Homo sapiens: one gene and its partner. The protein of the gene in region 1 purifies or fractionates together with the protein of each later gene. This does not show direct contact. Each region holds a gene or a part of one and is shown in the gene's direction. Other genes may lie near its edges.

Region 1 (3,891 bases):
TTGACCAGAGTAGGCCTTTTGGAGGAAACAGCATAACACTTATACTGAAACTTGATAAAGTGAGGCATTGGCCAGATAAGTATGGGAAGAACCTTCCAGACCAAATAAGTAACACCATGAGGTAGGAAAGTGCTCGGCATTTCAGTGGAACAGAGAGAAGGCTATTGTTTCTGGATCCCAGTGAGTGAGGGTGGTAATGGCATGAGGTGGGGTAGTATCGTTGGTGTTCCTGCGGCCCCTCCTAATGATTTTGGACTTCATCTCAAGTATAATCAATGAGTCAGTAAGTGTGGAAAAGGTCAGAGAGTAGAAGAAGCATCTTGAATGACCAAGGACAGCATGAGGGCTTAGACTCCAGCACTTAAAAGAAAGCAAGAGAAGAGCAGATAAACTTGACCCATTTCTGGTTTCACTAAGTGATTTACTTGGAAGGGCTTCCACACTGTTTTGCTATTAATCTATTTTCATTCCATTGTCACTATTAATCTAAGCCCCCAAATATGAATTGATGTCATCTGTGGAGTTTATAGCAATTCAAGTGTTCTCATGTAGAAAATAAAAGTAATATCTCTTGTCGTGTCTCTCATTCTTGCAGCCCACCTTTCTCAGGCCCAGATCCTATGAAAACCTATAACATCATATTGAGGGGGATTGACATGATAGAATTTCCAAAGAAGATTGCCAAAAATGCTGCTAATTTAATTAAAAAACTATGCAGGTAAGTATTTCAACCACATTATTTTTGAAAACATCATAATGTGAAAAAATTAGATTTAATAAAACCATTATTTTATTTTTAGGGACAATCCATCAGAAAGATTAGGGAATTTGAAAAATGGAGTAAAAGACATTCAAAAGCACAAGTAAGTGTTCTTTCTGCAGAGTTCTGAACACGTGACATCATTTCCCCAGGGTGTTGCTTTTTAAGTTATTGGTGTAAAACTAGTATAATTAGCCTATAGGAACATCCAAAGACAGCGTATAAACTAGTAAGGCTTTTAAATGCCTTTCTAGTTGTGATTATGAAACCTTATTTATATTTATCTGACAACCCTGTAACATAAGAAGCTGAACTCAGTTTCTTACAACTCATACCAACTAGCATTTTTTTCCCCTCTGGCACAAAGGGGAAATGTGTATTTTAAATTTGGGGATTCTATTCTCTACCACAGAATTACAAATAAAAGTCCCCTACTGTATCTTACCTGATTTCCTAAAGACAAAATATATTTTTCCAAGCATTTCCTAATTAGATGTTATAACAGGAGAAAAACATAAGTACAGAATACAGTGTTTTTTAAACAATAGCAACATCTTAAATATCAGACCTTCCCTATGTTGATTGGATGTTCTAAAGCTAAACTAATTGGGTTTTCTCTATTTGTTTGTGTAACACTGACAGGAAATTCACATCCTTATCAAAGAAACATGTTTACTAAAATATCTCTGAATATCTGAAAAGCCTGCTAAGAATTTGTTGTAAGCATTTGCTAATGCTGAAACCCTTCAAAGACAAAAGAAAACAAACAAGCAAAAACTTTAGTCTTTTTTGGTTCTTATTTTCACAGAAAAACTGTACACAAAATATCTTTATTCTTCATTAAAAAAGGGAAAAAAAGAAGAAAATGGGACATGTAGAGACTATGACAATGATGTGAAAAGGTTAATTAGCTGACACTGTGCACTGAATCAGTGGCAAAAATGGAAAGTTAATTTTCTATCCTGACTTTTCATGCCCTGGTTCTACCTCCTTAAAATAAAATATCCTGTAAGGCACAGGGCCAGACACATTATGACATGTATTAAATTTTAATTATAGTGTAGGAACAAGGTCATAGAGACATTATGACTGAATTACAAGGAATAAGTGTTGCATGTTAATTGGTGTTTAAAATTTGACAGTTATACTTTTAAAAATATGTATTTCATAAAATAAACTATTAGGAAAACATATGCAATTAAATAGAAAACATTTTTGTCACATGAAAATGTTTGCCTAACTGCTTCCCATTAGCCATGGACATTGTATACACTGCAATGAGAAGCTTTTAGCTGACACAAAATGTTTTTATCAACGTTTTTTCCTTTTCTAGATGGTTTGAGGGCTTTAACTGGGAAGGCTTAAGAAAAGGTACCTTGACACCTCCTATAATACCAAGTGTAAGTAGACTTTCCAGCTTATAATTGTGTGACATAATTGATGGTGTTTATGTCAGTCAACAATGATCTGTTATTTTTAAAGTTTAATCCTATGATTAAGTTAAACAAACTCTAGGAAAAATGTCACATTAAAATAATGACATATTCTAAAATCCAAACTTGAAAGCAGATAAATTTGGGGATAGTCACTGTAAATGTGTTTTACTCTTCTCTTTTTTAACTATTCATTTGATTCAAGTTTCCCTCATTTATGAACATAAGTTAATTTTTAGCATGGGAAATGTTCAAAATATAGAAATGCAGACAAAAATATATAGGTGAGAGGATCACTTGAGGCCAGGAGTTCAAGAGTTCAAGACCAGCCAGCCTGGACAACATAGTGAGACTCTGTCTCTACAAAAAAAGAAAAGAAAATACTAGCCAGGTGTGCTGATGTGCACCTATAGTCCTAACTACTCAAAAGTCTGGAGCAGGAGGATCACTTGAGCCCAGGAATTTGAGCTTACAGTGAGCTGTGATTGTACCACTATACTTCAGCTTGGGTGACAGAGTGGAAAGACCCTGTCTCTAAAAAAAGAAATAAAATAACACTTTTTCAAAGAGTCTTTACATGATCACTCTTTTTTTTTTTTTTTTTTAATTTTTTTTTTGAGATGGAGTCTTAATCTGTCACCCAGGCTGGAATGCAGTGGCGTGATCTCGGCTTACTGCAACCCCTGCATCCCAGGTTCAAGCAATTCTCCTGCCTCAGTCTCCTGAGTAGCTGGGATTGTAGGCAAGTGCCACCACTCCCAGCTAATTTTGGTATTTTTAGTAGAGACACAGTTTCACCATGTTGGCCAGGCTGGTCTTGAATTCCTGACCTCAAGTGATCCTCCCACCTCGGCCTCCCAAGGGTTGGGATTACAGACGTGAGCACCGCGCTGGGCCTACGTGATCACTCTTTTATTTTTTTATTTTTTTATTTTTTTATTATTATTATACTTTAAGTTTTAGGGTACATGTGCACAATGTGCAGGTTAGTTACATATGTATACATGTGCCATGCTGGTGTGCTGCACCCATTAACTTGTCATTTAGCATTAGGTGTATCTCCTAAAGCTATCCCTCCCCCCTCCCCCCACCCCACAACAGTCCCCAGAGTGTGATGGTCCCCTTCCTGTGTTCATGTGTTCTCATTGTTCAGTTCCCACCTATGAGTGAGAATATGCGGTGTTTGGTTTTTTGTTCTTGCGATAGTTTACTGAGAAATGATTTCCAATTTCATCCACGTCCCTACAAAGGACATGAACTCATCATTTTTATGGCTGCATAGTATTCCATGGTGTATACGTGCCACATTTTCTTAATCCAGTCTATCATTCTTGGACATTTGGGTTAGTTCCAAGTCTTTGCTATTGTGAATAGTGCCGCAATAAACATACGTGTGCATGTGTCTTTATAGCAGCATGATTTATAGTCATTTGGGTATATACCCAGTAATGGGATGGCTGGGTCAAATGGTATTTCTAGTTCTAGATCCCTGAGGAATCGCCACACTGACTTCCACAATGGTTTAACTAGTTTACAGTCCCACCAACAGTGTAAAAGTGTTCCTATTTCTCCACATCCTCTCCAGCACCTGTTGTTTCCTGACTTTTTAATGATCGCCATTCTAACTGGTGTGAGATGGTATCTCATTGTTGTGTTGATTTGCATTTCTCTGATGGCCAGTGATCCAGTGATGATGAG
Region 2 (3,891 bases), on another chromosome or scaffold:
CTGCAGCCTCAAACTTCTGGTTTCATGCAATCCTCCCACCTTAGCCTCCTGAGTAGCTGTGACTGCAGACACAGTCCCCATGCCCAGCTAATTTTTTTCTTTTTCATAGGGACAGGGTCTTGCTATGTTGCCCAGGCTGGTCTCAAACTTCTGGCTTCAAGCATCCTCCTGCCTCATCCTCCCAAAGGGCTGGAATTATAGGCATGAGCTACCATATCTGGCCACAAGAATCTTTAAAGCTGCTTGTCTCTTTTATGACAGAGTCTCGCTCTGTGGCCAGGATGGAGTGCAGTGGCGCGATCTCGGCTCACTGCAACCTCCGCCTCCTGGGTTCAAGTGATTCTCCTTCCTCAGCCTCCCAAGTAGCTGGGACTACAGGTGCCCGCCACCGCGCCCAGCTAATTTTTCTATTTTTAGTAGAGACAGGGTTTCACCATGTTGACCAGGATGGTCCCGATCTCCTGACCTCGTGATCCGCACGCCTTGGCCTCCCAAAGTTTTGGGATTATAGGCATGAGCCACTGCGCCCAGCCAAAGCTAGATTTAGAAATCCATTATTTCACATAACTGGTCTCAGATAAACCAGTCTACATCACAATGTCTAAAATGAACAACACCTGTGACAGGTCAGCACAGACTAAGTAAGTGTATTAGTGTCAATTTATAGCTTAATTTCTCTCTCTTTTAAGATACAGACATTCCAATTATTTTCTTTCTGTATCCTTTGCGGATCATCTTGTACTTTGGAAACCACAATTTAACTGCCCAAGTCACTCATAAAAATAGCAAAAGTAGCTGGATGGTACAAAAGTAGGTCCCAGGGCTTCAAATTTGGTTGAATATTGACTCCAGTAGGCAGCCACCTACTACTGAGCAAACCTAACCCTCAGTTATGTCATTTGTAAAACAGCACTTAACAGTTTGGCCGACCTGCTAGGGCTGTTGTAGGGACAAAAGAAGATGGTGCGTGTACTGCTTTAAGCCTGGCACCTGGCACTCTGCTAACATTCAGCTCTCTGGGCTGGGCACTGTTAATGCTCCATTTCGTAACCTGCTGTCAACCTGCAGGTAAATCACTCTGACTCCAAGCAAACACCCTGAGGGTGGAGTCGGCCTGTTTGAGGTTTCTGTTTGCAAATCTTGATATATGAAGTGACAGTGGAGATTGTACAGTTTTTTCCTCGATTTGTCAGGATTTTTTTTTTTTTGACGGAGTTTAACTTCTTGTCTCCCAGGTAGGAAGTGCAGTGGCGTAATCTCGGCTCACTACAACCTCCACCTCCTGGGTTCAAGCGTTTCTCCTGCCTCAGCTTTCCGAGTAGCTGGGATTACAGGCGCCTGCCACCATGCCCTGCTGACTTTTGTATTTTTAGTAGAGACGGGGTTTCACCATGTTGGCCAGGCTGGTCTTGAACTCCTGACCGCAGGCGATTGGCCTGCCTCGGCCTCCCAAAGTGCTGAGATTACAGGCGTGAGCCACCACCCCCGGCCTCAGGAGCGTTCTGATAGTGCCTCGATGTGCTGCCTCCTATAAAGTGTTAGCAGCACAGATCACTTTTTGTAAAGGTACGTACTAATGACTTTTTTTTTATACTTCAGGAATAGTAAAGAAACACATCATAAAACCTCCCAGGACATAAAGGTGAGCACAGACCCTGTTTGGATCAAGTCAGTTCCTGGAGCCTGAATGATGACTGCTGAATCACGGGAAGCCACGGGTCTGTCCCCACAGGCTGCACAGGAGAAGGATGGTATCGTAATAGTGAAGGTGGAAGAGGAAGATGAGGAAGACCACATGTGGGGGCAGGATTCCACCCTACAGGACACGCCTCCTCCAGACCCAGAGATATTCCGCCAACGCTTCAGGCGCTTCTGTTACCAGAACACTTTTGGGCCCCGAGAGGCTCTCAGTCGGCTGAAGGAACTTTGTCATCAGTGGCTGCGGCCAGAAATAAACACCAAGGAACAGATCCTGGAGCTTCTGGTGCTAGAGCAGTTTCTTTCCATCCTGCCCAAGGAGCTCCAGGTCTGGCTGCAGGAATACCGCCCCGATAGTGGAGAGGAGGCCGTGACCCTTCTAGAAGACTTGGAGCTTGATTTATCAGGACAACAGGTAAAAAGAGGTGAAACCTATTATGTGTGAGCAGGGCACAGACGTTGAAACTGGAGCCAGGAGAAGTATTGGCAGGCTTTAGGTTATTAGGTGGTTACTCTGTCTTAAAAATGTTCTGGCTTTCTTCCTGCATCCACTGGCATACTCATGGTCTGTTTTTAAATATTTTAATTCCCATTTACAAAGTGATTTACCCACAAGCCCAACCTGTCTGTCTTCAGGTCCCAGGTCAAGTTCATGGACCTGAGATGCTCGCAAGGGGGATGGTGCCTCTGGATCCAGTTCAGGAGTCCTCGAGCTTTGACCTTCATCACGAGGCCACCCAGTCCCACTTCAAACATTCGTCTCGGAAACCCCGCCTCTTACAGTCACGAGGTAAGAAGCAAGGTTTCATTTAGGGGAAGGGAAATGATTCAGGACGAGAGTCTTTGTGCTGCTGAGTGCCTGTGATGAAGAAGCATGTTAGTCCTGGGCAACGTAGCGAGACCCCATCTCTACAAAAAATAGAAAAATTAGCCAGGTATAGTGGCGCACACCTGTGATTCCAGCTACGCAGGAGGCTGAGGTGGGAGGATTGCTTGAGCCCAGGAGGTTGAGGCTGCAGTGAGCTGTAATCATGCCACTACTCCAACCTGGGCAACACAGCAAGGACCCTGTCTCAAAAGCTACTTACAGAAAAGAATTAGGCTCGGCACGGTAGCTCACACCTGTAATCCCAGCACTTTGGGAGGCTGAGGCGGGCAGATCACTTGAGGTCAGGAGTTTGAGACCAGCCTGGCCAACATGGTGAAACCTTGTCTCTACTAAAAATATGAAAATTAGCCAGGCATGGTGGCACATTCCTGTAATCCCAGCTACTCGGGAGGCTGAGGCAGGAGAATCACTTGAACCCAGGAGGTGGAGGTTGCAGTAAGCCGAGATCGTACCACTGTGCTCTAGCCTTGGTGACAGAGCGAGACTGTCTTAAAAAAAAAAAAAAAAAAAAAAGAATTAATTAAAAATTTAAAAAAAAATGAAAAAAAGCTGCATGCTTGTTTTTTGTTTTTAGTTATTCTACATTGTTGTCATTATTACCAAATATTGGGGAAAATACAACTTACAGACCAATCTCAGGAGTTAAATGTTACTACGAAGGCAAATGAACTATGCGTAATGAACCTGGTAGGCATTATTTATTGAATTATCAGCATTCCAGATGTCCAGCACATTTTTAATAGGAAAGTATTGGGAACAGATGTCATTATTTTCAGCCTAGGTTTTAAAACATTTTAGTATGTCATGAATTATCTTCAAAAGGATCATAAATCTTTTTTAAAGGTCCATTTTATTTAAAATATATAAAAATAATCACTGCACTGCAGCCTGGGTGACAGAGAGTCTGTTTCCAAAAAAAAAAAAAAAAACTATAGCATCAGTCTTTTCTAGGTTATTTTCAGAAATTTCAAACAATGGGAAAAGAATGGAAGAACTTTTGAGGGGAGTTGAGGAACACGAAAAAAGATCAGTTCACAGTCATATAAATAAAAAGTCATGTTACTTGTTTTTTCTCTTTTGACGGAAATATGTAATACATTTATCCAGTTTTAAAATCAAAGTATGTGCTTAGAATGTAAAGACAAGGAATGCTAAAAGTACATTTATCACTTAATGGCAGGGATAAGTTATGGTAAGTGCAATGTTAAGTGATTTTGTTGTGCGAACATCATAAAGTATACTTATACAAACCTAGATGGTCTAGCCTTCTCCACACCTACGCTACAAAGCTGTACAGTATGTTA

Evidence for each region.
Region 2: the proteins of PRKG1 (region 1) and ZKSCAN1 purify together in Homo sapiens (affinity purification with mass spectrometry; 2 studies listed by BioGRID and IntAct, with this or other methods). This does not show direct contact.

The regions. Positions count from the first base shown.
Region 1 is NC_000010.11:52,288,131-52,292,021, forward strand, and holds part of PRKG1 (cGMP-dependent protein kinase 1), read left to right. Parts: intron 1-595; coding exon 596-718; intron 719-800; coding exon 801-863; intron 864-2,093; coding exon 2,094-2,160; intron 2,161-3,891. UniProt on the Homo sapiens protein: Serine/threonine protein kinase that acts as a key mediator of the nitric oxide (NO)/cGMP signaling pathway. GMP binding activates PRKG1, which phosphorylates serines and threonines on many cellular proteins.
Region 2 is NC_000007.14:100,021,820-100,025,710, forward strand, and holds part of ZKSCAN1 (zinc finger protein with KRAB and SCAN domains 1), read left to right. Parts: intron 1-1,075; exon of another isoform or gene 1,076-1,235; intron 1,236-1,599; 5' UTR 1,600-1,687; coding exon 1,688-2,113; intron 2,114-2,334; coding exon 2,335-2,488; intron 2,489-3,891. UniProt on the Homo sapiens protein: May be involved in transcriptional regulation.